Regions from separate parts of the Homo sapiens genome. Here region 1 is reported to be linked to region 2. Evidence: microRNA targets listed by miRTarBase, many of them from high-throughput screens and not tested one by one. Region 2 holds a microRNA gene; the other region holds the end of a gene's coding sequence.
Evidence for each region. Region 2 holds the annotated microRNA hsa-miR-6721-5p (UGGGCAGGGGCUUAUUGUAGGAG, at 1,437-1,459, opposite strand). A microRNA usually pairs through its seed, bases 2 to 8, with sites in the 3' UTR of a target mRNA and lowers its output. Matches are read on the target gene's strand: a 7mer-m8 pairs with bases 2 to 8, a 7mer-A1 pairs with bases 2 to 7 and ends in A, and an 8mer does both.

Region 1 (4,385 bases), not on the chromosome of region 2:
TTCCCTGAGGCTTCCTTCTGCAAACCAGAACCAGTGACCCCTGTTGAACCGTGGCCCTGTCTAATCCCCTAGAATAGCCTGTAAAATGGGACCTGAAGCCCTAAATTTGTCTCTGACTGTGACTCGGGCTAGTTCCTGCCCGAGTCTCGGGCTCCCGGTGATTCAACATGAGGGTGGACAATGGGATCTGCCCGTCCCCGCTGCTCGAGCGCTCTCGGAGTCTAGGCTTGCTTTCTGCTCCAGTGCCTTGAGCTCTTCCCACTGTCAGTCATCGCTTCTCGTGGCTTCCTGATTCCAAGTGTGTGTTGCTTGTGCCCGATGCGGGGAGGCTGGGGTGGAGACTCCAGCTGCCGGCATATGGTGGGGGTAGTGCCACACAAAACGTGGCACCTTTATTTTATTTTTGTTCTCTCCTCACTGTCTCACTAAAGGAAGAGAAGAAACCACCCCCTCCGGTCCCAAAGAAGCCAGCCAAATCCAAGCCGGCAGTGAGCCGCGACAAGGCCTCAGACGCCAGCGACAAGCAGCGCCAGGAGGCCCGCAAGAGACTCCTGGCGGCCAAGCGGGCAGCTTCTGTGCGGCAGAACTCAGCCACCGAGAGCGCAGACAGCATCGAGATTTATGTCCCGGAGGCCCAGACCAGGCTCTGAGACCATGCAGGAGGAAAGAAACGATTTTAAATCATTAAAAACACAAAAACTAAGTGCGAACGGAACAGAGTTTTCTCAACCTTTGCTATGGTTATTCTGTCTAGAGACCCTGAGCCAACTTTCAAATTGACGCATACAAGGGCTCACAATTTGGCTTTTTTGGGTCCCTCCCAGCTTTAGGTTATGAAGATTTTACTCACAAAAAAAATCAACAAAAATCACGAAACTAGAAAACTTTTTTTTTCCTCTTGCTGGCCGTGGTGGACTAGATAGATGGACGTCGGCAACTCCCGGCCCAGCCTCCATACTGCGGTCTTTTTACTCGTTCTATCTGATGAGAACTCACACTAGCTTGTTTACAAGATGACGACAGTCCAAGGGCAGCCTTGGGCACCTGCCATGTCCCTCCTTTCCCCAGCTATCCCCGCTCTGACCTTGATTTTCATTCTTATGTTTTTCTCTTTTCCCTTCAGAGCTCACACAGTGGTCACCATTGTGGCAAGCGGCTTTCTGGGTCTCAGCCCTCTCTGCGGTTGAGGGCCCAGAGGACAGAGAGATGGACATGCGTCCCCTCCCTCCCCCCGCCAAGTGCTCACACACAACCTCACGCGCACACACACACACGCAGATGGAGGCGCCTCACTGGGAGGTGCCCCGCCAGCCCTGGGCAGTGTCAGGCAGGACTCACTCACCGCTGAGCAGATGAGGGAAGTTTTAGTCTTGGCGGGTGGAAATGAGACGAAGCCACAGTTATCACACTCCAGACTCCTGCCCTTTTATTTTCTCCAGCCCCTTCTTCCTTCAGCAAAATCTAGGACTCCCGAGTGGCTTCCAGGGGGCCGTCAGTCCTCAGCCGCGCCTGTGTCCGGTGCCCGAGGGGCGGGCGGCGGTGTCTGTATGTATGTGTACATATGCACATAGACCTTAGAGTGTATAGTTAACAAACGCCCATCTGCTCACCCATGCCCACCCAGCGCCGCCGCCGCTGGCTCTCGGGGCACCTGGCAGGAGGCGGGTGTGTGAATAGCATATATTTTTACATGTACTATATCTAGGTGTGTGTACAAGTGTGTGTAAAAATATATACCTTGTGTGTAAGCAGCCCTTTTTTTTTTTGGTCTCCACCCCCCTCCCCCCGCCCCGCACTCCTAAGGGCCCATCTGCCCAGCCTCTGAGTTTTCTGTTCTATTTTTTTTTTAACCCCAATTATCCTTCTCTCTCTCCTGCCCCCGCATCCCACTCCCAGGGTGTCACGAGCCCTGAGCTGCAATGGCCCGGGCCTGCAGGGCGGGGTAGGGGAGGGCAGGGGCTGAGCCCCGAAGCCAGCTCAGTACCTGAGGGGCTGCTCTATGCTGTGTATGCGCCTCTCTGGCATCCGAGACATCCTCTTGGCTGGCGCTTGCTGCAGGGGGGGACCCCCCCCCGTCCCCAGGTGAACCAAGGGTCTGCTCCGGGGCCCATTTCCAGCTTGGCCGCCGTCTGTGACCTTGGGCAAGTCACTTGACCTCTGTGTGCCTCAACTTCCTCCTCTGTAAAACGGGGACAGTCCCTGCCCCTCCCTACCTCACAGGCATGTTGTGAGAATAAATGAGGTAACGTGTACCAAGGGCTTGTGGCATTATTGCAGGGGGATGAGCAGAGTGGGCCCAGGAAACTGAACCAGACCCCTCCCAAAAGGCAGCTCTGTGGAGACAGCCTGATGGGAGTGCCAGCCGGGATGCCAGCTGTCACATGCCAGCTCTGTGATCTGGGGCGGGAAGATGGAGCTGACCGTCCCCTCTCCCGAAAATCAGTGTGCAGCACTTACCAGCTTCCTGTTTGAAATAAACCCTTGAAAGATAGATGCTATCACAGGAGCCAGGATAGGCTGATAAAGACGACCCTAGAGGACAGTTTACACCCCCCACAGATCCACAGTCTGCACATTCTCCAGGGTGGGGTACTCGGTATCCCCCTGCCTGGCAGCTGCTTCCACTCTGTCAGGTGCGAGCCCTGAGTGCATCTCCAGAGCACCTCCTCTACAGGCCCAGTGCTGGGGCAGAGCTCGCTCTGGTGAGGGAGACAGATATTGAACGTGACAGATAAGGTCAAGTCAATGACAGGTGGTAAAAAACAAGACGCAGCAGAATGAGGCTGCAGGACCCCGCAGCGCGACCACCAAACCCAGCCTGGGCAGGAGTGTTCTGGTAGAGACCAGAAGGATGAGTGGGTAGCCAGCTTTCAGGGAGGGAGCGGCACGCAGTCCTGGCAGAAGCAGGAGGTGCCAAGCCCCAGTGGTAGGAACATACCTTTTCCTTTTTTTTTTTTTTTTTTTTTTTTGAGACAGTCTTGCTCTGTCACCCAGACTGGAGTGCAGTGGCGCGATCTTGGCTCACTGCAACCTACGCCTCCTGGGTTCTAGCAATTCTCCTGCCTCAGCCTCCCGAGGCTGCCATTATGCCCGGCTAATTTTTGTATTTTTAGTAGAGATGGGGGTTTCACCACGTTGGCCAGGCTGGTCTTGAACTCCTGACCTCAGGATCAGCCCCCATTGGCCTCCCAAAGTGCTGGGATTACAGGCGTGAGCCACCGCACCCGGCCGGAACATGCCTTTTAGAAAGTTCTCTGGCCAGGCTCTGGAGCCACAGACTCCTGGTCTCCTCCCTTGGCCCAAGCCAGCCAAGAAGCTCGTGATCTCAGGCCCAGGGGATGCACGGACCCTGCCTTCCCAGCAGCTTTGTTCAGGCTACCTCGCCCACCCCAGCGAGCCCCCTGGGAGCCCATCCGAACTGTGGCCAGACCCCTGTGCTTGGAGCAGCCCTTGACCCCGGATCCCAACACACCTGTTAGTGGTGACAGAGCATCTGGTGACCACAGGTGGCTTGGATTAACTCCAGGGCTGGCACCTTCCCAGACCTACCCCTACCCTGAGACCCAGCTGGGGGTGACTTGAAGGGTAAGTGAAGAGGTTTCCAGTTGCATCAGGCATTGAAGCAGACGTTCAGGGGTGCAGCTAGCAGCCGGCTCTCCCGGATGGGCCATGGGGATTGGGGATGGACCCTTAGCCTTCCTGCTTCTGCTGTGGCAGGGGAAGGGACTTGAGGGTTAGATTAGGGTCTCAGGAGGGATCCTGCACTCTATTAAGCACAAGATGGGGTAGGGGTGTCTGATGTACAGAATCTGGACCCCCACGCCCAGCCCTCCTGGCACAGCAGTGGAGAAGACGCCACCTCCATTGAAGGGACAGTATAATAATGAACACATATCTCGCGGCCAGAGTCACCGATTACTGATATTTCACCCATATGAGCATTATCCCTCTCGGATACATACACATCGTTTTCCCCGCGAGCCATCTGAGAGTCAGTGGCATACACTGATACTTCACCCCAAAACACATCATGCAATTCCCAGGCACGAGGACGTTCCTGCACAACCACAATACCATCACCACCCTCAAACTTAAGAAAGGAATGTTCCAGGGAGCACCTCCTTTTATATGAATATGGCCTAAAGCACAGCCCATACGCCAGGTGCCCTCACAACCTTGTCCCTTATACCTTCTCCCTTTTATCCATCCAGGGTCCCATTAAGGATCAGTCACTGCTTTCAGTTACCATGTCTGTCTGGTTTTGTTTTGTTTTGTTTTTTCTTTTCTTTTTTAGACAGGGTGTCACTCTGCTGCCCAGGCTGAAGTGCAAAGAATGGTGTGATCACGGCTCACTGCAGCCTCAACCAACTGGGCTCAATCAATCC
Region 2 (4,385 bases):
AGTGCACGACCCTGGGCATCTGGGCAAGGGCAGGCATGAGACCTCTGAATTAGAAGGGTCCAGCCCCCACTGACAGGAGGCTACACTGGGAGGGAAGGTGAAGGTGCTGAGGAAAGCTCCCATGATGAGCCTGGGAGTGCTTCAGGTATCAGCTTCCAGCCAGAGGGCGAGAAGTCCTCCTCACAAATGGATGAGTCCATTGAATCCATGGACTTTGGAGTGGGGGGGATTTGTTCCAAAGAATGGATGAGTCCACTGGCCAATGTGGGGTAGAGGGGTAGAGAAGACCACATAGGAAGAGACTCCACTGGGGATGGAATGTTCCCCTCCCTTGTGTAGGCTGAGTCACTGGAGATGAGGGGGAGGCAACTGTCCCACAGACAAGACAGTAGGAGGTGGGGGTCAAGAGTGGAGACTGCACCGAGGCAAGAGTCCATGGATGGGGCCAAGAGGGGGCAGGAGTGGCGCTGTATCCACATTCACTTCAGAAGTTGAAGATTCCAAAGAGGAGAATAAGTGGGGAGAGGGGAGACAAGGAAGAGGGTTTGGCCCTGCTTCAGGGCCCACTGGGTGGGTAGGTGTGGGGAGGAAGATGGGGACAGATGGGAGGAGAGCTCAGAGCCAGGGTTCACCCACCGCCCCCAGGCTTCTTCAGATAGTCACCACCACCCCGGCCATCAGTGGAGATTTCCCGGAAAACAGTGAGCATGGAGTGCCGGACTCTGTCAGCCAGAGCTGGGACGTCATCTGGTGTCAGCCCTTCCGTGGGCACTGGGGGCAGCACCCGCACCTGACATTGTCCTGGGGCAAGGGGAGCACCATCATGGCCTGTCCACCCAGGTCTTTGCCCACAGGTGGGGCCCAGCTTCCGAGTGATACTCTTCCTCAACCTTTCAGTTCTCTTCCCCCAACCCTGGACAACCATCCCTGGGCTTGCCAGCTGCCACTTCTGAGGCCCTTCTCCTATACAAAGCCTTCTCCAATCCCCAGTTCAGACATCTCCTCAGCACCCCTCCAGCCCCCCTCCTCTGGGTTTGGCATTTACTGCTGAATGAGTGTTATTCATTACAGCTTTGTGCACACAGGCCTTATCTTTCCTGTTAAGATTAGTAACAGCCTCTCTTGGTGGGACCAAGTGCTACCCATCTGGCAGGGTATGGTGGGTGCTTAGTAAAGACTTATTGGCTGATGTGGGGTTAGACTAGATGACTGTGTAGACATCTCATGGCTCTGACACTGAATGATCCCCCTGCCTCACAGGGATGTCCTCCCAGCCTCTCCGGACACACCCTACCCCAGAACTGCTCAAAGCCCTCACCCGAGGTGAAGCGACGCTCCTTCTTGCAGTAGAAGTCTTGGTAGGAGGACATGACTATGGGGACAATGGGAACCTGGGGAAGGGTTAAAGCAGGTCAGTCCACAGCTCTCTTCAGAGACTCCTACAATAAGCCCCTGCCCAGAGATGAGGGAATGGTGGGGGTTGGCAGCTGAGTAGCAGAACGAAGAGCAGTAGTCACCTGGGCCTGCACTGCAAGATGGAAGGCGCCACGTTTGAAGGGCAGCATGGAGCCATTGTGGTTTCTCGTTCCCTCAGGAAACACCCAGACCCTCACCTGGGGGAGAAAGAGGGTCAAAGAAGACAAATACATATGGAGGAGTCAGAATAGGTGTGATGTTATAATGGGACCTTTGAGGCCCACTGGCCCTGCATATCAGTTTATTTACAACTGTTCTACTCTGTATCCCTCCAATCCCCCATTTCCCCAGGATGACTCACGTCCTGGGTGAGCAGGGTCTGGGCGACCTCAGACATGACACTGATGGCATCCCCCGTGCGCTTCCGGTCGATGAAGATGACTCCTGCCAGCCAGCAGGCCAGCCCGGCAGAGCCAGCCCACAGTAGCTCGCGCTTGGCAATGGGCACACAGCGGCCTGGCAGTACCTCCATCATCCCTTGGGCAGGGTGGGAGTGGGTGAGGATCGGGGTGGAGGCAGAGTGTCACAGAAGGCAACCCACCTCACCCAGCTCATCACCCTCTGGTAGGGACTGGAGGTGAAGGAGGAGACTAGGCAGGGAGGGGGGCCCCAAGTGAAGGAAAGGGTGACCAAAAGTATATGTAACCTGCTTATGAGGGCAGTTCTACCCAGGGAATGAAGGCCTGAGTGGGAGGCAAGGGGGCAATGTCCCAGAGGAAGGGGAATTGAGGATCTCTAGGAGAAGATATTCTAGGGAAGGTTTCAGGAGGGGAGGCATGGCTGGGGGAGGTGTGCCCTGTGGTGGGGTCTCACCAAGCAGATCGAGAGAGCTCTGGTGGTTGGAGACAACAACATAGGGCTGCGAGGGAGGGAAGTGGTGAGCCCCTCGCACCTCCACTCGGATCCCGTACAGGTATTTGATGTGGAGCAGCATTAGACGCAAGATCCTGTGGGGTCATGGCAAGGGGTCCCAGTGGGATCCATTGATGTCCATCTGCATGCCTCAGCTCCCCCCACCTTACTGTCTTTCTGACCACCTTTGCAGTCCTCTCCCCATTCCCTGTCTCTGGTCTCTCTCAGTCTTTTCTACACACACCATGCCCCCTTCCCCCAATCCACTACTCACTTTGTACCCTTAGGTTCCCTCATTGCCCAAGACCCCTTGCCCCTCACTTCATGTTCTCGACGTTGCGTCCTCGCACGGCACACACAGGGATGGCGAGCACAGCCAGGAAGAGGATCCAGCCATTGTAGAAGGCCATCTTGAAGAAGTACTTGGCACTGGGGCTGCAGAACCACAGGGTGGGCAGCAGGAAGAGCAGCAGCAGGAAGAGCAGCAGCAGCAGCATCCATGCCCCTGGCCACAAATCCATTCTGGCCACCTGCAGGGGATGGGGCAAGGGACAATCAGCCTGGTTTCTGGAGGAGAGTGGGGTAGGCAAGGCACAGAAGGCAGGGCTGGGGGCTGGTGCTATGAGGACAAGGGCCTGAGACACAAACTGGGGCAGGGGTCTCATTGAAACCTTCCCAGGAAGGCTCTCTAGGATGAGGGTGGTGGAGAAAGAGCTCAGGACTGCTCTCCCACCACTCTTCCCAAAGGCTCCGGATATATTCAGACAAGAGACACAAGACACAGACATCTACAATTCACAGATACCTGATAATAAATGACAACAAGAATAATAGCTAACACTTGTAGCTGGTAAGGGTCTTATAATGGTCTATACTTGTGCTGTCCGAGAAAGTAGCCACCACCTACATGTGGCTACTTGAAATGCAGCTAGTCTGAACTGAGATGTGCTGGAAATGTAAAATACACATCAGATTTCAAAGACTGAATAAAAAACAAAATGTGAGATATCCATTACTAATCTTTTATGCTGACTACATTTTGAAATTATAATCTTGGGCCGGGCGCAGTGGCTCACGCCTGTAATCCCAGCACTTTGGGAAGCCGAGGTGGGCAGATCACGAGGTCAGGAGTTCAGGACCAGCCTGACCAACATGGTGAAACCCCGTCTCTACTAAAAATACAAAAATTAGCCGGGCCTGTTGGCGCATGCCTTTAATCCCAGCTACTCGGGAGGCTGAGGCAGGAGAATCGCTTGAATCCGGGAGGCGGAGGTTGCAGTGAGCCAAGATCACGCCACTGCACTCTAGCCTGGGCAATGGAGTGAGACTCCATTTCCAAAAAAAAAAAAAGAAATTATAATCTTTTGGATGTTATCAGATTCAAGAAAATATATTACTAAAATTAATTTCACTCTTTTTGCCTTGTAAAAATGTGGCTACCATAAAAAAATTACATTGTGGCTTGCATTATATTTCTGTAGAACAGTACTGGTCTATACATTAAGTTAAACTCTTAAAATGATGCATATGATAGTCTAGAAAGTACTATTACTATTTACATTTTATAGGAAATAGGCCCAGGGAGGCTAAATAACTTACCTGAGGTCATACAGCTCCTAAACAGCAGTTTCTAGGTTAAATCTAAGCCGCCTGTGTTCCTAACCACTCCATTACGCTGACACTGGTATGTATTGCATATATATATACGAACACAGCACACAGCATATATGGTGATTGTGACAGAACACTCACAGCCATATACCCAAGGGCCAAATGGCAAGATTAAAAGTTCGTGTCACTAATGCCAACAGACACACAGTCATACAAAGACTAACATGTTCACACATAGACACAAATTTATAATTACACCCAGTGACAGATAAAAGAATGTAAATGCATAACTAGAAAAATCCCTCTCCACCCAGGCAGCTCCCCTATTCCTAGGTAAACTTATGGACATACCTGGAATAGCTACAAAGACCAATCCTACCTCCAGACAGGCAAACGAATCCTACTACCCTTTCCCTTCCTTCTAGTGACACTTTGCGTGGGCAGGT

Region 1: the mRNA of DLGAP4 is a reported target of hsa-miR-6721-5p. Seed matches in the 3' UTR shown: 7mer-m8 at 1,418-1,424, 7mer-A1 at 1,811-1,817, 7mer-m8 at 1,873-1,879 and 7mer-m8 at 2,199-2,205.

What each region holds. Positions count from the first base shown.
Region 1 is chr20:36,526,382-36,530,766 of GRCh38, forward strand. DLGAP4 (DLG associated protein 4) reads left to right here. Exons shown (of 13, transcript NM_001365621.2): 13 at 432-2,252. The coding sequence ends at 650. The region is part of intron 2 of DLGAP4-AS1 (DLGAP4 antisense RNA 1); the gene reads right to left. Among named protein-coding and RNA genes, the nearest start is that of MYL9, 13 kb to the right of the region's middle.
Region 2 is chr6:32,168,648-32,173,032 of GRCh38, forward strand. MIR6721 (microRNA 6721) reads right to left here and starts at 1,469; the gene lies at 1,383-1,469. AGPAT1 (1-acylglycerol-3-phosphate O-acyltransferase 1) reads right to left here. Exons shown (of 7, transcript NM_006411.4): 2 at 2,650-2,858; 3 at 2,290-2,423; 4 at 1,778-1,953; 5 at 1,518-1,613; 6 at 1,319-1,391; 7 at 1-801. The coding sequence starts at 2,849. The coding sequence ends at 629. RefSeq lists an enhancer at 652-1,851.